Linked DNA regions of Homo sapiens. The main gene of each other region encodes a partner of the protein of the gene in region 2 in a complex. Each region holds a gene or a part of one and is shown on either strand. Other genes may lie near its edges. A codon is read from its position in the direction of its gene.

Evidence for each region.
Region 1: the proteins of INKA1 (region 2) and PAK4 are in contact, whole or in part, in a crystal structure (PDB 4XBU), measured with the Homo sapiens proteins. Residues at the interface, in NP_976248.2 of Homo sapiens: Gly178 (codon at 2,124), Arg179 (codon at 2,121), Ser180 (codon at 2,118), Arg181 (codon at 2,115), Gln182 (codon at 2,112), Pro183 (codon at 2,109), Leu184 (codon at 2,106), Val185 (codon at 2,103), Leu186 (codon at 2,100), Gly187 (codon at 2,097), Asp188 (codon at 2,094), Asn189 (codon at 2,091), Cys190 (codon at 2,088); in NP_001014831.1 of Homo sapiens: Ser331, Gln358, Arg359, Glu361, Leu362, Thr404, Asp440, Lys442, Ser443, Asp444, Phe461, Leu475, Val476, Gly477, Thr478, Pro479, Tyr480, Trp481, Met482, Arg489, Glu507, Glu512, Phe516, Asn517, Glu518, Pro519, Pro520, Met524.

What each region holds. Positions count from the first base shown.
Region 1 is NC_000019.10:39,119,934-39,131,086, reverse strand, and holds the start of PAK4 (serine/threonine-protein kinase PAK 4), read right to left. Parts: upstream 5,302-11,153; 5' UTR 5,168-5,301; intron 1-5,167. UniProt on the Homo sapiens protein: Serine/threonine-protein kinase that plays a role in a variety of different signaling pathways including cytoskeleton regulation, cell adhesion turnover, cell migration, growth, proliferation or cell survival.
Region 2 is NC_000003.12:49,796,507-49,806,784, reverse strand, and holds INKA1 (PAK4-inhibitor INKA1), read right to left. Parts: upstream 3,525-10,278; 5' UTR 3,393-3,524; coding exon 3,342-3,392; intron 2,605-3,341; coding exon 1,798-2,604; 3' UTR 1,755-1,797; downstream 1-1,754. Other genes in the region: UBA7 (ubiquitin-like modifier-activating enzyme 7), read left to right, coding at 620-712, 788-888, 1,348-1,477; CDHR4 (cadherin-related family member 4), read left to right, coding at 5,191-5,340, 6,967-7,021, 7,348-7,538, 7,629-7,791, 7,868-7,959, 9,753-9,863. UniProt on the Homo sapiens protein: Inhibitor of the serine/threonine-protein kinase PAK4. Acts by binding PAK4 in a substrate-like manner, inhibiting the protein kinase activity.

The DNA.
Region 1 (11,153 bases), on a different chromosome or scaffold from region 2:
TTTCTCATCTCTAGAGTGAGGATGATACTAGCACCTACTTCACAGGTTGCTGTGAAGATGAAGTGAGGTAACAGGGGTAAAGCGCTGATGACCTCAGCTGGCACGAGGACGCTCCTCCATCACTGTCCCCTCGTCTTCTCCACCCTCTTCTGCTTGGACTGTCACAGCAGCCTCCCCACAGCCTCCCTGTCGCCACCCCCCGCGATCCGTCCCCCACACAGCAGCCTGAGCAATCTTTATAAGGGGAAAACCAGATGTCACTAAAGCCTCTGATGACTTCCCATTATGCACAGAATGGAATCCACACACCCCACCTGGCTCTGCTAGGCCCTGCTGTATCCAACACCGCCTCCAAGCCTCTGACCCCACCCCCTGCTCAGCCACACTGGCTTCTTTTTTTTGCTTTTTTATTTATTTATTTATTTTATATTTTATGTATTTCTTTAACTGCTCTTTGCAGAGCAAGGCTACCACACAGTCAGGGTGCACAGCATAGCCTACACCGGCCTATCTGATGATCCTCGACCATTCCGAGGTCATTCCGACCCTCAGGGCCTTGGCACTTCCGTACCCATGACCTGTTACATTCTTTCCACCTCCTTCCAGCCTCGCTCATATGTTCTCATCAGTCAGATGTCATCTTATCCAGAAAGCCCTCCTCAACTCCCCACGCTGGGCCACATGCCTCCTCGGGCTTCCTACGGTCCCTGCGCCTCCATCCCAGTCCCAATCCCTCTCTGTGCCCCTCCCCACCATCCAGCCCCAACCCCTCTGCCTGGGTTTCCCCATCCCGCCCTGACCCCTCTGCCTGGGTTTCCCCATCCTTCTCTGACCACTCTGCCTGGGTCCCCCCCAGTCCCACCCTGATCCCTCTGCCTGGGTCCCCGCTCCCATCCCGCCATGACCCATCTGCCTGGGTCCCACCACCCCACCCTGACCCCTCTGCCTGGGTCCCCCCCACATCCCGCCCTGACCCTTCTGCCTGGGTCCCCCCCACATCCCGCCCTGACCCTCGCCTAGGCCTCTCCTTCACAGCCCTGGCCTCTCTGGGCTGTCACCGTCTGGGGACAGCAGGTCTGTCTCCTTCACTGTACTATAATCTACAAGGGTAGAGCTGGGCTGTGTTGGTTACCACTGGGACCAACAGTCAGATACACAGAAAGAATGTTACAAGGCCTCACCCATCCTCCAACTTTCACCTCCGTCCTCCCTGCCTCCCTCCTGAGAGGTTCGAATCAGTATAGTTCTCTTTCCCAGCTGTCACCCCTGGCACCTGCCCCCAAGGGCAGTTGGGGCAAAGCTGCAGTCACCGTCCTGGATGCCCAAGGGGGTAAAGGTGAAAGCCCTTCCATCCTTTCTTCTCCTGTGGTTGTAGGGAGTCAGTGGGGACGAGGTCCCAGCTAAGCCAGTTGTGTGAACCATCTCCCCATCTGTTTCCAAACAGCCTGGTGGGTGGGTGGGTGGGCCCATAAACCTCCCATGTCACGGCCGAGGAAATCGTTTCAGTGAGGGCCACAAAGCTGCCCAAAGCAGGACTTGAAATAAAGGGAGCCCCGGAGCCTGCTGGGGAGCACAGTGGTCCAGCCACTGGGGGCATGACTTGGCAACCGCTAGGAAAGCGGGGAGCTCCGGCTTTTCCACTACTAGGCATATGCCAGAGAGACTCTGGCCATGGTCTACAGGAACACGCGTTCCAGAAGGCCCACTGCTGCACGGTTATAGCTCCAACGGACCACCTCAGTGGCCATCAACAGGTGAACAGGCAACTCCTGTGTGACACGATCACAAAAAGAAACACCATCAGGAAAAACAAATGGCCTGTCCCAGGCCTACACACATCCCCACCAAGAGACATCCAGACTCCAATGCTCAGCTCAAAGCGGGGAGCAGGTGTGCGCGCCTGTAATCCCAGCTACTCCAGAGGCTGAGGTGGGAGGATAGCTTGAGCCCAGGAGTTAAGAGTCCAGTCTAGGCAACATAGCAAGATCCCATCTCAAATATACCTATAATGTTGAACAAAAACAGCAACTTGCAGAAAGGCATGTTTATGGTGACACCATTTATCTGAACTGTGAAACAACAGTCGTCAGCCCCTGCTGGCCATAAGAACTGCCCAGGGAGCTTCCAAAAGCCTGAGGCCAGCCCCAGCCCAGACCAAGTAAGTTGGAAGCAGAATTTCCATGGCGGGCCTGGGCCAAGGCATCTTTTCAAAGCTCTCCAGGGAGTTGCAATGTGCAGCCAGGGGCAAGAGCTGTTGCTCTACTGTTGGTGAATACATTCAAGGGCAGTCAAAGTATGAAAGGCTGCAGAGGAATGGTGACTGCCACACCCAGGACAGAGGCTGCCCCTGGAAGGGAGGGAGGAGGGGGGGTGAGGAGGAGACCCTTGGCCTCTAACTGTATCACGGTGTGTTCTGTCCCAGGCCAGACGATGGCCGGATGCATGAGTGTTTCATTATACTGAAAGCCCTTTTTCCCCTAGCCAAACGTGTTGAAGGAATAAAAGTGGCAAATAAATCATTTGTCCCATGGCTGGTAAGTGACAAGGGAGGGACCTGAATATGGGTCTCCAATGCCCAAACCCTATCCTTCTTTATCTGTGCCAAACCCTGAGATGCTGAGTGAGCTGGCACTGCAAGGCTGGGAGGCTGGGCCAGCCTCAGAGGGCTGCCTGGCAGTGTGCCGGCTCCCTGACCCTGCCAGAGCCAGGTAGGGATGGGGTGGCTGCCAGAGAAAGCCAGGAGGCAGGTGGAGCGAGGGCCTCCACTGTCTCTGAGGCCCTCCCCAGGCAGTGGTGGGGTGGCAGCAGCAGCAGCAGCAAGACTAATGCTTACACAGCAACTACTGTATGCCAGGCCTTGGGCCAAGGCTCTCTAGCCTGCATCCTCACAGCAATTCTATGAGGCAGCGCTAACACTATGCCCATCTTGCAGAAGTGGAAACGGAGGTCCTCACATGCTCTGTGAGTGATGGAGAGGGGTGTGTACCAGGCATCTCTGGCCCAGCACTGCTTTCTGAATCACGCTCCATCAAGGCCTCAGGCAGCTCCACACATACAGGTACTCCTCAGCCCTCCCCTGCTCCCACCGTCCCTCCAAAGCTGAGTCCCCTCAGCGTCTTGCCCTGAACCTGCACAGGCTACGTGTTGCCCAGATCCCCAACTGTGCACCCGAGTCCTGACCTCCAGTCATGCCAGGGCCTCTGCACACACTGCTCCTCCTGCCTGGTAAGCCCATTCCCAGCCCTCCTCCCCATCCTTCAGAGCCTTCCCAGGGGAAAGGGACTCAGGCTTCAGCCCAGGGTAGGGGCACTCTCCCGGCTCTCTGAAGATGCCCTCGCAAGCCACATCACCGTTTGCAGAGACGCAGTCTTGTGTCACTGGCTTGGGGGCTGGTTCCACTCTGCTCCCACCAGGGAACTGAGTGCCCTCTGAGGCTAGGGGCTCTGTGGATCTCGTCCCCTGCCACACTCCCAGCACCCGGCACAGTGCCCAACAGTCAACCCCCAGCAATGTCACATCCTCTGCAGGCCAGGCAGGGCTTCAGTGGGGACCGAGGCAAGGAACCCCACAGAGCAATTCCACCATGCACCCTAATAATTAAGGTAAGGAGGGAGGTAAGGGCTGGTCAGATGAGAGAAAAAGAGCCTGCAGCAAGGCGAGCCAGGGTGGTCCCGGGCCAGCTGAGAGTGAGCGACCCGTCAGTGAGAGAGGGCAGGGTGGGGAAAGGATTCCCAGCAGAAGGAACAGGAAGGTCAAAGACCGGGCGGGAGGCATGGGCCTGGAGTTGGAGAACAGTAAAGGGGCTGGGGAGAAATGGGCAGAGCCATAAGAAGTGAGGTGGGAGTGACTAAGGACCACAGTGAGAGCTTAGGGTTTTAAGAACAGTGAACACCCCGCTCTGCCCAGGGTACCACCCAGGGACACTCTCCCCAGTCAGAAGCCCGTCGGACTCCCTTGCTCGGACTCCAGACCACCTACAAACACCCTACTCCCATAGGCTCACAGGAATCTTCCCTGCCAGATCACACCCTTCCAAGGAAACCAAGCAGACAATCCGATCCGCCCAGGGAGTGGCCCAGCCCTGCCCAGCCCCCTGCTTCCAGGAGAGACCTAATGGCTGGCAGCGGACAATGTGGCGACCAGGGGCAGGAGCCCTGGAATCACCCAGGCCCAGCTTCGATTCTAACTCTGCCTTCAGCAGAAGCTTCTGAGCCTCATTTTTCCCGTCTGTAAAGTAGGTTCATCTTGAGCACTCACTTCACAAGATTGCAGCAGGAGTGAAATACGACCGGGCACACAGGGCGTGGAGCACAGTGTGAGCCCTCATTAAACATTAACCGACATTATGATGATTTGAGAGGCGGTCGGCCAGAGCAGGGCTCTGGGCCAGAACTCCGGAGTTAGAATCCCAGCGCACAACTTATGCATCGGGTGACCTTGTGCAAATCACTTAACCTCTTAATACCAGGTTAAGACCCCCTAAGACTATAGTGAGGACTGAATAAGCTCATACAAGTAAAGCGTTAAAAAGAGGGTCTAGCCCATAGTGTTTCATGAGTGTTTGCCATTATTATTTGTGGGAGGGTTCCCCCTTCTCCTGTCACCAGGAAGCATCTCTGACCCGGCCCCCCCCCCCCCCCCCGTCCCCCGCAATACGCCCTCCTTGGGTTTTAATTTTTGACTCTGGGAAACAGCTGCCCCGCTGTCAGATTCTCACCTTTGTACCTTCTAGGCACGCCCCAGCTTTGAACCCCTAAAAGACGCCCCCGAACCTAAAACTCATTCATCTGCTCCGCTAGGGGCAGCTTTAAACCTCCAACCTGGCGCCCCTGGGGCTGTGACCTCTGACCCTCGTGGGGGCAGCCTTCCCTCAAATTATTAACTTTGACCCTGCCTTTTTTGAGACTCGCCCAGAACCCCTCGAACGCGCCCCCACTTCGAATTTCAAACTTTGCACTCCCCTTCGCCACGCCCCCTTCGCTGGTTTGATCTCCGACCTCCACTACAACTCCCTCCAGTCTGCGTTAACCCCCGACCCCTCGGACGCGACCCTTCCCTCCACCAGTGACCTTTGACCCCGGCGGCCCCGCCCCCCTCCTCGCGGAAACGCCGTCCCGCCGCCAGCGCCCGGCCCACCGCAAGCCCCTGGCCGGACCCCTTATCCTACCGGCTCGGCGCCGCAGTCGCTCGCGGCCTAACTGCTCGACCTGGAACTCCGCGCCCTCGCGCCTCCCTCAGCTCTCTTGCACCGCCACCACCGCGGACACTCCCGCCGCCATGTTGAATCCCCAACGAACATCCGGGGCTTTCCCCCCTCACCGCCCACCAGTCCCCATAGCAACGAGGCTGACCGGGCAGTGGGCAGGGCCAGTGCGGGGGCGGAGTCGGGCGCCTCTCAGGGCCCGCTCCAGCCTCCGATTGGTACAGAGCGTCCAATCGGAGACCTTCGGGCAGAAAATGCCAAGCGGGGATTGGAAATTTTGGAAAAGGTGCGGGAAGGCTGGCTCCCGGCCCACTGAGGTCCTTAAAGGGGAAATGACTGTTTTCGTGTGATACCGATTTTCTAACTTCCCCCCCAGAAGGAGTTAGGGGCTGGGAGAAAGTAATGAGTTAATGGGCAGAAACAGTTCTTAAGCACTTACTAGGAGGCAGGCACCGGGATAAGTGTTTTACTTGCATTTTCTCGCTGCATATACAACCCTGTGGTATAATATCATTAATACCCATTTTACAGATAAAGAAACAGAGGTTCAGAGGGTGAAATAGCTGGCTTAGCATCATAGAAAGAAGGTAATGAGTTTTGAACGCTGGTCTGTCTGAGCCCGGGAACCTGAGACTGTTTGCTCTTCAATTTTTAAATAAGTTTTTACGAAGTAATTGGTCAAAATATTGAAAACAAACAGCAGACATCTTCTTTAAAAATTTTTTTAAATTTTATTTTTACTTATTTATTTGTCTTGAGATAGAGTTTCGCTCTTGTTGCCCAGGCTGGAGTGCAATGGCGCGATCTCAGCTCACTGCAACCTCCGCCTCCCGGGTTCAAGAGATTCTCCTGCCTCAGCCTCCTGAGTAGCTGGAATTACAGGCGTCCACCACCACACCCAGCTAATTTTTTGTATTTTTAGTAGAGACAGCGTTTCACCATGTTGGCCAGGTCGAACTCCTGACCTCAGGTGATCTATCCGCCTCGGCCTCCCAGAGTGCTGGGATTACACGTGTGAGCCACCAAGCTGGCCTTTTTCTTTTATTTTTAAAGAGAGAGTTTTGTTGTGTTGGCCAGGCTGGTCTCGAACTCCTGGGCTCAAACTATACTCCTGCCTCGGCCTCCCAAAGTGCTGGGATTGCAGGCGTGAGCCACTGCGCCCGGCCAGACATCTCTCCTCCTGGATCTTATTCACTGGACTCCAGCCTTCATGCTGTTCCTGAACTCTTGTCAGGTGCGCTCTCACCTCACAGTCTTTGCACTGGTTGTTCCTCTGCCTGGAACATACTCTTCCCCCAGGTATCCTTATCTCTCCCTCCCTTTTTTCAGGGCTTTACACAGATGTCACTTTCTCTGTGAACTAATTCCCTCGCTCACCCTAAGGAAAGCAGCAAACATCCCTCTCACATACTACCAAACTCTGTCTGCTTTGTTCTTATTTCTCACTCCTAATTGTAGTTATTGCTTGTTGGTTGTCTCCTCTGCTGGAATGTCAGCCCCATGACAACATGGATTTCTGTCTTTGTTCACTGCTGCATTCCCAGTGCCCCAGCACTGTTGGCATGTAGATGCTCAGTAAACATTGGTGGAAGGGCTGTTTGAATGCGTGGTAATTCCACCCCTTCAGAGATACTCTTAAATGTTTGGTGCTTCTCCTCTGCCCCAGAACAGCCACATAGTAGGCATTTAATTAATTTCTACTAATGTCGGTGGCAACAATGAATGAATGATTGAATGATGAGTTAATTTTTCTTTATGTTTACCTATCTTTTTTCTTTTTATTTGTTCATTCGTTTTTTTTTTTGTTTGTTTTGTTTTTTGTTTTTTTTTTTTTTTTTAGATAGGGGTCTTACTCTGTCGCCCAGGCGGGATTGCAGTCTGAAACTCCTGGGCTCAAGTGATCCTTCCAACCTAGCCTCTCAAGTAGCTGGGACTATAGGCATAAGCCACCACACCGGCTAATTTTCTTTCTTTCTTTCTTTTTCTTTCTTTCTTTCTCTTTCTTTCCTTCCTTCCTTCCTTCCTTCTTTCTTTCCTCTTTCTTTCGACAGAATCTCACTTTGTCACCCAGGCTGGAGTGTAGTAGCATGATCTTGGCTCACTGCAACCTCCGCCTCCAGAGTTCAAACGACTCCTGGGCGCCTACCACCATGCCCGGCTAATTTTTGTATTTTTAGTAGAGACGGGGCTTCCCCATGTTGGCCAGGATGGTCTCGAACTCCTGGTCTCAAGTGATCTGTCCGCCTTGGCCTTCCAAAGTGTTGGATTACAGGCATGAGCCACTGCACCTGGCTTGGCTAATTTTCTTAATTTTTAGTAGAGACGGGGTCTCGCTGTGTTGCCCAGGCTGGTCTTGAACTCCTGGCCTCAAACAATCCTCTCACCTTAGCCTCCCAAAGTGCTGGGATTGCAGGTGTGAGCCACCATGACTGACCCCTTTTTTCTTTTGACAGAATTGGAAACATACGTTTGTAAAGAATGTTGTGTCTTTTTTTTTTTTTTTGAGACGGAATTTTGCTCTCATTGCCCACGCTGGAGTACAATGGCATGATCTCAGCTCACTGCAACTTTTGCTTCCCGGGCTCAAGCGATTCTCCCTCCTCAGCCTCCCCAGTAGCTGAGATTACAGGCATGTGCCACCACGCCCAACTAATTTTGTATTTTCAGTTGAGACGGGGTTTCTCCATGTTGGTCAGGCTGGTCTCGAACTCCTGACCTCAGGTGATCCGCCCCGCCTTGGCCTCCCAAAGTGTTTGAATTATAGGCGTGAGCCACCACACCCAGCCTAGAATGTTGTCTTTTAAACCACAAGATTGTAAATATCACCAGTGTCTTTCCATGTCATTAAATATTCTTCAAGAAGATTAGTTTTAATGGCTGCATAAGATGCCATCCTATCAATGAACTCGAATTTGTTTAATCACTGTCCTTTTGAACATCTATGCTGTAGTACCTTGCCATTATAAATAATCCCCCTCCCTGTCATGCAAAATCCAAGCAGCTAAATATTTGTGACCATCTCTAATTATTTCCTTGTGCCTGTCTCTAATTATTGTTCCTACTACAAATGAAACTTCTGGGTCAAGGAGAAGGTGTATCTTTAAGAATTAAGAATAGTAACAGTGGCCGGGTGTGGTGGCTTCCGCCTGGAATCTCAGCACTTTGGTAGGCCGAGGCAGGCGGATCACTTGAGGTCAGGATTTCGAGACCAGCCTGGCCAACGTGGTGAAACCCCCGTTTCTACTAAGAATACAAAAAATTAGCCGGGCATGGTGGTGCACATCTGTAATCCCAGCTACTCAGGAGGCTGAGGCAGGAAAATCGCTTGAACCTGGGAGTCGGAGGTTGCAGTGAGCCGAGGTGGCAGAGGTGGCATCACTGCACTCCACCCTGGGTGACAGAGTGAGTGAGACTCTCAAAAAAAAAAAAAAGAATAGTAACAGTTCCCATGTTTCAAGCATTTCTGTGCATCAGGAAGCAGGGTGCTAAGCCATGTAATTGTAACAGCTAAAGCTGTGAATATTCATCCCTTTTCCAGAGGAGGAAACTGAGGCTCAGAGAAGTAACTTCACTTGCTCAAACTCAAGGACCAATGGGGCAAACCCAGCTTTGACTCCCGGGCACTGTTCTCATTGACTGCCCTCTGCTGCCTCCTCATGGCCTGGGACACACATTGCCAAATTGTGCTGTAGGGATCCAACTCACGCTCCCACCAGCCTTCAGAGAGAATGCGCCCTTTAAAGAATCCTTGTCAGCACTGGGGGCCAGGCGTGGTGGCTCACGCCTGTAATCCCAGCACTTTGGGAGGCCGAGGTGGGCGGATCACAAGGTCAAGAGATCGAGACCATCCTGGCCAACTTGGTGAAACCCTGTCTCTACTAAAAATACAAAAATGAGCCAGGCGTGGTGGTAGGCGTCTGTAATCCCAGCTACTTAGGAGCCTGAGGCAGGAGAATCGCTGGAATCCGGAGGTGGAGGTTGCAGTGAGCCAAGATTGCACCACTTGGCTGGGCGCGGTGGCTCACGCCTGTAATCCCAGCACTTTGGGAGGCCGAGGCGGGAGGATCATGAGGTCAGGAGTTCAAGACCAGCCTGGCTAACATGGTGAAACCCCATCTCTACTAAAAATACAAAAATTAGCCGGGCGTGGTGGCACGTGCCTGTAATCCCCGCTACTTGGGAGGCTGAGGCAGGTGAATCGCTTGAACCCAGGAGGCAGAGGTTGCAGTGAGCCGAGACCAAGCCACTGTACTCCAGCCTGGTAACAGAGCGAGACTCTGTCTCAAAAAAAAAAAAAAAAAAAAAGATTGCACCACTGCACTCCAGCCTGGTGACAGAGCAAGACCCTGTCTCAAAAATAAATAAATAAATAAATAAATAAATAAATAAATAAATAAAAATAATCCTTGTCAGCATGAAACATTCTTGTTTTTGCACTCTTTTGAAATGCTTGTGTGTCTTGCAGAATCTTCATTAAAAAAAAAAAACAAAAAACCAAGACCAGGAGCTGAGATGACAACACCTTATTCAGGTCATAGTAACGGGAGGAGGGGCAGGTGCAGCCTTTGCCTCTTTAACGCCCTGCACAAACTTCAGAGCCTTAGGTTCTAGAACTCATTTTTGGGGAAGTCCCCTTGTAACTTAGTTGGGGATTGCATCAATAGTCAGACCCCTGGAACAATCCCAGGGACAGATCTACCCCAAGGGCTTACTCAGGGTGAGCAATCAGGCCCTGCTACTCCAGGACCCTGGGAGAGGAAAATCAGACTCCAAAGAGCCTCCTACAGAAGGCTTCCCAGTGGGGATGTTGAGGAGGTGACTCTTGAGGGATGGAAAAAGGCGAGGAGGGTGAAGAGGATTTGGCTTCATAAAAATGATACATTTCAGTACATCAAGGAAAAAGATAAGTTGTGACATATGGATGGCAAGAAAAGCTTTCTGTCTTTCATATGTAAAGAACATCTGCAGATCAATAAGAGAAAAAGGTAAACATACAACAGAAAAAAACAGGCAAAGGACCTAAAATAAATAAATAAATAAATAACAGTGAATACAAAAAAATTGAATTGGTGAACAAGCAATTAATGAAATAAGTATTAAACTGAGATTTGCTTTTGGTCTCTCAGAAAAATGTTTTTAAATATTAATATATTATAATATATAATTAGTGCTGATGAGAGTACACGCCATCAGCACTCTCATACCCCACTGTGGACTGGATCTGGGCAGCTTTTTGGTGATATTTATTAAGAGACTTAATATTCCTATCTACCTCTTGATACAGCAATTCTACTTCTAGGAACTGATCTTAAAGGGAAAGAAAGACTAGTGTTGCTTTCTTTAGGAAAAAAACATAGATAAAGGTGTATATATGCAAATATTCATCATTAGTAAGTACTATTTTAATGTTTATTATAACTATTGCTTTTTATATGTAATATTATTGATGTATCATAATGTACTTGGGCCGGGCACAGTGCCTCATGCCTATAATTCCAGCACTTTGGGAGGCCAAGGCAGGCAGATCATTTGAGATGAGGAGTTCAAGACCAGCCTGGCCAATATAGCGAAACCCCAGCTCTACTAAAATACAAAAATTAGCTGGGCATGGTGGCACATGCCTGTAATCCCAGCTACTCTGGGCACTCAGGCTGGGCATGGTGGTTCATGCCTATAGCCCAGCACTTTGGGAGGCTGAGGTGGGAGGATCACTTGAGCCAGTTGGGGAGGGGGTGTGTGTGGAGGTTGCAGTGAGCTGAGATCGGCCACTGCCCTCCAGCCTGGGTGACAGAGCAAAACCCTGTCTCAAAAAAAAAAAAAAAAAAAGTACTTGAATCCCCTATTATTGGACATTTGGGTTGCTTCCAAGTTTTTCCCTACCCTCTATGCCAGACCTTCTCTAAATCCACTTTACCTACATATCTTTTGTTTTGTTTTAAAAATAGGGTCT
Region 2 (10,278 bases):
TTTCTCAGGGGCTGATAAGCACCCCCTGTCCTGGTCTCTAGATACCTGCCAGCCATCCTTCTGTCCTTAGCTCTAGGTCCCAGAACCCCAAGACTCTTGGAAGGAAGGAAGGGACAGGAGGAGGAAGCCTCTATGCATTGTATCCCTGCTGGGGTCTCTGGGACAGTGGGGCCCTGGTGGTCACTGTGCCCTTTGCCCCTGTGTCCCAATGAGTAGCCCAAGGCACTGGCAGTACATACAAGATTGGGGGACAGGATGTGCCCCCCAGCTCCCAGCCTTGTCTTTGAGGAACAAGCAGCTTTATCAGAGGCTGCAGGGGCCCTGCTCTGGGTTTCCTCAGGAAGCACCACCCCCTCATCCCCCACTCTCACAACTGGCCCATGTGATGGATCGTCTGTTTCCCTGTGCGGGCCCCATAGCCCCATTTCCTGTGCTGGCCCCGGCCTGGACGGGGAGGGGGCTGAGACTCTGGGCCCAGATCCCACCTCCCCCCCACCCCCCACCCCCTGGCTCCTGTTTCCTGCTAGTCCAGCTCTTCCCCTAGGAAAGGCTGCTGGTAACTGGGATGGGGGTTGGGGGGAGGTAAGAAGTCTCTGACTCCTCCTCTACCTCATCCCAGTTCCATCACCTGAAGTGGACCTCTTGGGACCGTCTGAAGGTACCAGCTGGGCAGCCTGAGAGGACCCTGGAGTCGCTGCTGGCTCATCTTCAGGTGTGCCCTGTTGCTACCCCAACCCCCAGGCTCAGCCCAGCCCGGCCCAGCTGGTGTCTGACCTTTCTCCTCTAGGAGCAGCACGGGTTGAGGGTGAGGATCCTGCTGCACGGCTCAGCCCTGCTCTATGCGGCCGGATGGTCACCTGAAAAGCAGGCCCAGCACCTGCCCCTCAGGTGAGCCCACTTGGGGCTTTAGACAGGCCCCACCAGTCCCTGGAGGCTGGGGCTAGGGACCACACTGCCTTTTGTCTTCCCAGCCCCATTCTGGGCCCCTCACACCTTCCCAAGCATTCTTTCCCCAAATGGAGCCAGCAAACAGGCTGGAGGTGGGGTGAGGGCCGAGAGCCTGAGGAGGAGTCTTCAGGAGCTGCCTATTTGGCCAGCCCCATGGGCTCCCCACATGCTGCACAGCCCCCCTTTCACAGCCCACTCCCAAGGGACCCATAGCTTCCTGCCTCCTGCTTGCCTCATCAGCTGCTCCTAAAATAGTTTCAGATGTTTCCTGTCTTGAGCAGCTCCTGCTCCTGGCTTGGGCTCCTGACGGCCTGCCAGCACCCTCTCTAGTCCATGCCAGGCTGCCTTCTGCTTGCCATGGCTCACCTCTCCAATCTCCCCTAAACCCACCCCTACCAGGGTGACAGAACTGGTTCAGCAGCTGACAGGCCAGGCACCTGCTCCTGGGCAGCGGGTGTTGGTGCTAGAGCTGAGCTGTGAGGGTGACGACGAGGACACTGCCTTCCCACCTCTGCACTATGAGCTGTGACAAGGCAGCCACCCTGTCACCTAGCTCAATGGAGCCCCGGATCCCAAGCCCTGCATTGTAAGCCCACAGTAGGCACTCAATAAATGCTTGTTAAAGGAAGGCATTGCAGAGAGGATGGACGATAGAAAACAGTGCACTAATGCACACGGGTGTGACATGGGCATGACAGGGACCTTCACACAGAGAAAAAAAGCTCTTCAGAAGATTTGTCTCCCTGGGCAGTGCCTCACAGGGCTGGGGCTGCCTCTTAGTGCCTCAGGGGTATGGAGCCAGGACAGTCTAGAAAAAAGGCTTTTATTGTCCCAGGCTGGAGGGCAGGGTCAGAGGTAGCTGACATCATTGCAGATGATGGGCTGGCGGCTACGACAGCTCATGAGAGCTGCAAAGCGTGAGACATCCGCAGGCAGTTCAGGTTCTGGGCGAGGTGGGCATGACAGCCGCTTTCCTGCCATAGCTGTCCGCCGAGCCCTGGCCAGCCGGCGCCGAAGCTGCTCAGAGAGGCCAAGCAGGAACTGAGGGGGCCGAGCACGGGCACGGTGCCCACCTCCGTCACCCCCTTCACTCCCTGTCTCAGGCAGCTCCATCCAGTTGTGCACCAAGTCAGCAAAGCAATTGTCCCCTAGTACCAGGGGCTGGCGACTGCGACCCCTGTTCAGTAGGGCTGCTGTCCAGTCCTCTGCTTCCAGTCCCTGCCAGTGCTCCAGGCAGGCGTCTGGGGTGGACTTGGGCCGTGGATGGTGGACAGGTGGTACACTGGCTACAGGGGCCCTGCTGGGCATGGGGAGGCCACTGACTGAGAGGCACTGCCTACGAAGGGGCTGTGCTGAGGGTGCTGGGCGCTGGGATACAGGCAGTTCTTCCTCTCGCCATGTGCTGCCTGACACCTCCGAGAAGCCAGAGTCCCAGTCCAGGGCATGCTCCCTGGGGCCTCCCAAGGCTGCATCCCTGTCTTCTGTCACCACTGCTTCCTCCTCCTCCTCTTCCTCCTCCTCCACACAGCAGACTGAGTCCTCTTCCAAGGCACCCGAGGCCCTAAGCTGGTGGCTGGGCTGCACATCTGGGCCAGTTTGGGAGGTTGGCTGCAGGGGACCAGGCATTGAGGGTGAGCCTGTGTCCCGACCACACAACTGAGGGGAAGAGAGGGCAGAAGTCGGAGAGGTATCACTTGTCACCAGGCCAGCCCAGAGAACAGAGGGTCCAGGAAGGTTAGATAGGCCTGCTGGCCTGGGCAGCAGGGTGTTAGTGAGCACAGGGCAGGCATAGGGGTGCTGGCACTCGAAGCTGGTGTGGTTCTCATCCACCGACCTGGTGGCAGTCTGGCAGGCTGCAGCATGCAGGGCCGGGCAAGTCGGCACCCGCCACCAGGGCGGGCGGGCAGGCAGGCAGGGTTGCGGGCCTGAACGGGGAAGTAGGTCCTGCCCAGGACTGGAGGGGCATCCCGTGCCTATTGGGGGATTCAGCTCCCAAAGCCCAAAGCGTCTTTCACAGAAAGAGCGCTTGCTAGGTGAGGGGTAGAGAAGGGAGGCATAGGCCAGCCTGAAGTAGGGGGCGTTCACAGCAGCGCCAGCACCTCGTTAGTCCCTTGCCGCCCCATGCCCCGCCCCCAAAGAAGTCCCCCTTCCACTCTCTCCTCCCGCGCCGTTCCAGCAGCACGGCCAGCTGGATGCTGTTATCTGATGCTCAGCTCAGTTCCCAACCGTCCGAAACCCGACGCGGGCCATCTGAGCCATATGCGCCACGCCGCCCCCACCCCGCCTCGGACCGGCACGCTGGAGCCACCCCGCACCCGTCTGTTGTTCCGGCCGGGCGGCAGCCTGGCATCCCGCACGCGTCCTCACTAACCACACCCGCTCCCGAGCCTCACCAGTTCCCAGCGGAGCTGGCTAAGGAAGCTGTCAAGCCGAGCGCTGTGCATGTCCATGCCAGGGCCCCCACCGAACCTACTAGCTCCTCTTGGAACCCCGGCGGAGCCGCGCGGAGAGGGCTGGGAGGGCCGGCCAGCGGCGCCCTCAGCCTCCGCCTGCCTGCGCGACTCCTCGCTCTCCGTAGCTCCCGCCGCCGCCGCCCCGACATCTGGCAGCCGCGCCCCGCCCCGGCCCCGCGGCCAAAGGGGGCGGGGCTAAAGCCCGGCGTCCCTCCCGACTCCGCCGCGGTTCTGGGTGGGAAGGGCGGGGTCATAACTGGAAGCCGGACGGGGCCGGTACGGGGACCCCCCGAGCCCCCAGACTGTTGAGTGGACCCTGCGTTTGCTGCGTGACGCAGGACAGGTCGCCTCCGTGCGGGGGCCTCATCCTCCCCGTTTGTTCAATGGTGAAATAGCGGTCCCTCTCACGGGGCGCCGTGCTGCGTCCGCACATAGGCAGAGCACCCCGGATGGTCGGACCCAGAGAGGTTGTGGACCCTCGGGGCCTGACCCACGGGACCCATTCGTGAGGCTGGCCTTGGCACTCCCTGAACGGGATGGAAGTGGGGTTCAGCCCGTCTGAGGACTCAAGAGAGGGCGGGACTTTGTGGCAGCGCACCGGCGGGGCCTCAGCCGCGTCCCAACCGAGCTAGACGGGACTGCCCTCTAGTGGGGAGTGCTTGGCTAGTCGCGAGTCCAGCGGCGACGCGCGACCGTCGGCATTCCCTTTGCCGGTACCAGGTGCAGACTGAGGGTCGGTGCTGAGGCTGCTCTATCAACACAGGCTAGGCTCAAGGGTAGTGTAGCTGCAGACAGACTGGACATACCAGCAACAGGAAAATACCAGGGAATGAGGGCCGTGGGCTAGCTTGGGGAAAGTCAGTCTCACAGGAGGTGACATCAAGATGCAATCAAGAAGAGGGGCATTCTGGCCGGGCGCGGTGGCTCACGCCTGTAATCCCAGCAGTTTGGGAGGCCGAGGCGGGCGGATCACGAGGTCAGGAGATCGAGACCATCCTGGCTAACATGGTGAAACCCCGTCTCTACTAAAAATACAAAAAAAATTAGCCGGGCGTGGTGGCGGGCGCCTGTAGTCCCAGCTACTCCTGAGGCTGAGGCAGGAGAATGGCGTGAACCCGGGAGGCGGAGCTTGCAGTGAGCGGAGATCGCGCCACTGCACTCCAGCCTGGGCGACAGAGTGAGACTCCGTCTCAAAAAAAAAAGAAAGGAAGAAGAAGCAGGAGGAGGAGAAGGAGAAGAAGGAGAAGGAGAAGAAGGAGAAGAAGAACATTCTAGGCAGAAGGAGCAGCCAGGGAAGAGACCCCGACGGACAGGAGCTGGACAGGGCCAAACATAAAGAAGGCCCAGGTGTCTGTGATTGGTGGTGGTGGCAGGAGGGAAAAGGTCAGCAAAACCAGGCTCTAACGGCCTTAGAGCAGAATGTGGGTTTTGTTCTTGGTGTGATGAGGAGCAATGGGGGCCTTTGAGCAGGAATGACCTGGGCTAGCCCTTGTTTAGATAATCCCAGCTGCTTTCAGAAAAGGATTCTGCAATAAGAGTGGAAGTCCCTGCCCTCATCCAGGCAACGAAGGGGAGGGCCTAGGCCTGGGCAGGGCAGGTGCACTGAAGGGGGTCACTTTGGGGTATGTTTTGGAACTAAAATCAAGTCTTGCTGATGCATGGATGTGGGCAGGAAAAGAGGCATCAAGCATGACTCCTACATTTCTGGCATTAACAGCTGGTTGGATGAAATTGCCATAAACTGATCTGGGAAAGACTGGAGAAGAGTGGGTTTGGAGAGGAAAATCCAATGATCATTTATGGACACGTAACCCTTGAGATGCCTGTTAGACATCCAAGAGGAGTTGCAGAGTCAGCTGCTAGGTGTATGACTCTGGACTTCAGGAGAGAGATCAGCACTGGAGCCTTGGATCTGGGAGGCATAGTGAGTGAATGGATGGTATGTAAGGCCATAGGCCTGGATAAGGTGGGGTGGGAGGAAATCAGTGTAGTCAGAGGGAGACAGCAATCGGGACTGTGCCCTGGGACATTCCATGAGGTGGAGGTAGGGGAGATATGAAGCAGAGCTATCAAAGAAGCTGAGCAGGAACAGCCAGGAGAAATCTGAGAATGTGGGGACTCAGGACCCAAGGGGAGCAAGCATTGAATGCTGCCTAGGCAGTGAGGGTGAAGAACAAACCACTGGATTCGGCAGTGCATAGGTCACTGGGAACCCTGACAAGGGCAGTTTTGTGTAGAGAGGGACAAGCCTGATTAGAGTGTGTGGAGAAGAGAGTGAGGACTGAAGAACTGGAGATGGCAAATAAAGACAACCGTTTTTGTTTTTTTTTTTGAGACAGGGCCTCACTCTGTCACCCAGGCTGGAGTGCAGTGGCATGATCTTGGCTCACTGCAGCCTCCATCTCTGGGGCTCAAGTGACCCTCCTATCTCAGCCTCTCAAGTAACTGGGACTACAGGCATGTGCCACCACACTCAGCTAATTTTTTTTTTTTTTTTTTTTGTAGAGACAGGGTTTCACCATGTTGTCCAGGCTGGTCTCGAACTCCTGATCTCAAACGATCCTCCTGCCTCAGCCTCCCATACAGGCATAAGCCACCGTGCCTGGCCAGAAAACTTAAAAAAACTGACATATAAATACAATAAATAGACAGATCTCAAAGTTACAGCCCAGTAAATGTTAAAATCTGTAGACACTTGTGCAGCTGCCACCCAGATATAGAACATCCTCAGCAACTCCTGGATGCCACCTGGTGCCCTATCCAACTGATATTCCCAACGGTAACCAGTATTTGTATTTCTATCATAAAGGATTCCTTTTGCTTGTTGGATGTAGACAACTTTTTTTTTCTTTTTTCTTTTTTTTTGAGACAGGGTCTTGCTCTGTCACTCAGGTTGGAGTACAGTGGCACAATCATGACTCACTGCAGCCTCGATCTCTTGGGGTTCAAGCAATCCTCCTACCTCAGCCTCCAGAGTAGCTGGGACTACAGGCCTGGATCACCACACCCAACTAATTTTTTGTAGAGATGGGGTCTCACTTTGTTGCCCAGGCTGATATTGAACTCCTGAGCTCAAGTGATCCTCCCACCTCAGCCTCCCAAAGTGCTGGGATTACAGATGTAAGCCGCCACACCCAGCAAGTTTTGAGAGATTTTGTTGACGGTTGGGCTCATTTTTTATAGGCAGATAATGTTCTAATGGAGGGGGTCCAGCTGGAGTTGAGACTCTGTGGGGTAGCAGGTCCTGGGCCAAATTTTCCTGGGTGCTGTGCTTGCTCTATCTCCACGGATTGCATGACCAGTTTCCTCATCTGAACCTTAATCCTCCTCCCCTTCCATGCCCTTAGAGTTGTAATGAATGGGGGCAATGGAAAATGGGATATTCTGAGCCTCTGGAAGCCTGCCAGAGGTCTAGAACTCAGTCACCAGGGATGGGTGGGGATAGAATCTGGGAGGCCCAGGAGTCCCGCCTGCCCAGCTATGTTTGAGCAACTGACCTGGCAACAGGGTGAGTCAGACAAACAGCCTAGCTTTCTGAAGCCTCCTCTGCTGTCTGTGTCTTCAGGTCATCATGGTGCTGCTCAGGCTCCTCGTGTTCCTCTTTGCTCCGGTGGTCTCTGGTGAGGAGGTGGTGGGTGGGGGAACCGTAGTTTTCCCTTGGAGTCCTGACCCTTCCCAGATAAGCTACCATGGAGGACAGGGATTGGGGGAGAGGTAGGAAAGTGTAAGAATCTGAACCCCTGGCCCTCACCCCTTCTCTTGGCCACTTCCTCAGTCAAGTTCTCACTCCCCATCTGTGAAATGCTGGATGCTGGATACAAGGAAAGGCCTTAGCTGCTTGGCCCCATGGCATGGCCAGGCCCTGTGGCAAAAGGACAGGACTATGCTAGTATGTGTGGTTCCATCAGCCTGGGGGCCTCCAGCCTGAATTCTCTGCTCTTCACAGACCTCTGCAGCCTGCCCTGCTTTATAAATGTCTCTGAGAGCCAGGGCCCTGGCACAGTCCTTCAGTTTTTATCCTTCAACTGCTCCTCCTACACGCCCACACCCACCCTGGAGTTGCTCAATGTCCAGCCACCCACCACCTTCTTCAACCCACCCAGCTTGGCCAGGTGGCAAGGGACCTATGTGGGCAAGGTAGGGTCATGTGTACAGCTGGGGACTGTGGGGGCACAAGGGCAGACCTAAAATTTCCAAGCCCCACATGGCACTGTCCACCCACCCCAGTTGACCTTGAGCAGCTCTGCTCAGTTGGATGCCCTGATGGTGAACCACTACAAGGTGCAGCTGAAGTTCACATGTGGCAACCATGTGATGGAGGGCTCACTCTCTGTGGATGTGCAGCGGGACCTTAGCCATATCCAGTGTGCTGGTCAATTTGCCAGCCCAGGTGAGGCCAGGGGCAGCCGGCAGGGTGGGGGCAGGCATGGCCTGAGCAGATCCTCCCTGACCTCCACTCTGGCCAGCTGGGGAAATGATTCAGGTGCCAGAGACAGTCACACCTGGGGCTCGGCTGTACACTCTGCTCCTCCCAGGCCTAGAACTCCACGGAGCGCAGGTAAGCCCAGAACATGGGACGGTGGGTGACAGGATGGGGGTGGGGGGATGGAGAGAATAAATTAACCCCCACCTGGCCAGGCACAGCCTGAAGAGGAACCTTGCAGCAGAGGCATAGATGAGCCTCTACATGATGTATGTTCTTGGAGAGAGCTGCTGAGGGCTGCTCACTCCCCAGTGACCATGGCTGTTCCCACAGGGACATCTCAGGGGCTGAGTTCTTTTTTTTTTTTTTTTTTGAGACGGAGTCTTGCTCTGTCGTCCAGGCTGGAGTGCAGTGGCGCGATCTCGGCTCACTGCAAGCTCCACCTCCCAGGTTCATGCCATTCTCCTGCCTCAGCCTCCCGAGTAGCTGGGACTACAGGCACCCGCCACCACGCCCGGCTAATTTTTTTGTATTTTGTAGTGGAGACAGGGTTTCACCGTGTTAGCCAGGATGGTCTCGATCTCCTGACCTCGTGATCTCCCCACCTCGGCCTCCCAAAGTGCTGGGATTACAGGCATGAGCCACCGCTCCCAGCCAGGGGCTGAGTTCTTTCAAGATCTGCTATGTGTTCTCAGTTCTTTATGACAATTCTGTATCATTTCTGTAATCAAAAAAAAAAAAAAAACAAACATGTAGGTAATGGCCAGGCACGGTGGCTCACACCTGTAATCCCAGCACTTTGAGGGGGCTGAGGCAGGTGGCCTCAGGAGTTCGAGACTAGCCTGGCCATCATGGTGAGACTCTGTCTTTACTAAAAATACAAAAATTAGCCAGGTGTGGTGGCGTGTGCCTGTAATCCCAGCTACTTGGGAAGCTGAGGCAGGAGCATCGCTTGAACCCAGGAGGTGGAGGTTGCAGTGAGCCAAGATTGTGCCACTGCTCCAGGCTGGGTGACAGAACAAGACTCTGTCTCAAAAAAAAAAAAAAAAAAAGTATTTAAAAACAGTAACTGGCTTGAAAGCAAAAAGGATTGAGGACTGCGGCCAGGGCTTGGGCTAGAAGTCAGGGAGCCCAGGCTGGGATAAGGGTCAGTGGTGAAGCATGAGAAAACTGGGTGTCAGGCTGGGCACAGTGGCTCACACCTGTAATCCCGCATTTTGGGAGGCCGAGGCGGGTGGATCACTGGAGGTCAGGAGTTCGTGACCAGCCTGGCCAACATGGCGAAACCCTATCTCTACTACAAATACCAAAATTAGCCAGGCGTGGTGGCGGGCACCTGTAATCTCAGCTATTCGGGAGGCTGAGACTGAAGAATCACTTGAACCCAGGAGGTGGAGGCTGCAGTGAGCCAAGACTGAGCCATTGCACTCCAGCCTGGGCAACAAGAGTGAAACTTTGTCAGAAACAGGAAGGAAGGAAGGAAGGAAAGAAGGAAAGGGAAGGGAGGGAAGGAAATTAGCCGGGTGTGGTGGCACAGGCATGTAATCCCAGCTATTCAGGAGGTTGAGGCCGGAGAATCACTTGAACCCAGTAAGTGGAGGTTGCAGTGAGCTGAGATCGCACCACTGCACTCCAGCCTGGGCGACAGAGAGAGACTCTGTCTCAAAAAAAAGAAAGAAGGAAGGAAGGGAGGGAGGGAGGAAGAGAGAAGGAAAGAAAGAGAGAAAGGAAGGAAGGAGAGAGCGAGAAGGAAAGAAAGAAAGGAAGGAAGGAGAGAGAAGGAAAGAAAGGAAAGAAGGAAGGAAGGAAAATAAATTGGGTGTAGGCAGGTGCCTGCTGGGTTGCTGGAGGGTTGCTGCTGGGTTGTCGATGGGGGTGCTCAGGGCACTGGGGGCTGAATGTGGTTGCCAGCATCTCTGTTCTGTCAGATGAGCATTATCAGTGCCCAGGACCTGCCACACTTCCCTGGACCTTTCTCCATCAATGAGCAAGGTTGGCTGCAGGCACCATCCCAGGGCCTCCTAGGCCAGGCTCAAAAGGTGAGCATGACCTGGAATCTGAGGGTGTTTATGGATTGGGTAGAGTGCCTACCTTTTAGAAATTTGTTTATTCTTGGCCTCCTTGGCCTCCTTGACTAATACTGACTCTCTCAGACCTGGACCTGCTGCTGCATGCTGTCTGTCCTCCCACCTTAGCTTGGTTCTGTGCTGGGCTCTGGAGTTCTAGAAAGAAGAGGAATCCCTCTCTCTGGGAATTCACAAGCCCTCTAATAGAAAGAAAAGTGTTTAGGGCAATCACACAGTAAGAGAAAGTCCTGGGTAATGGCCAGGCACAGTGGCTCACCCACATAATCCTAGCACTTTGGGAGGCCAAGGTGGGCGTTGTCACCTGAGTTCAGGGGTTCAAGACCAGCCTGGCCAACATGGAGAAACCCCGTCTCTACTAAAAATACAA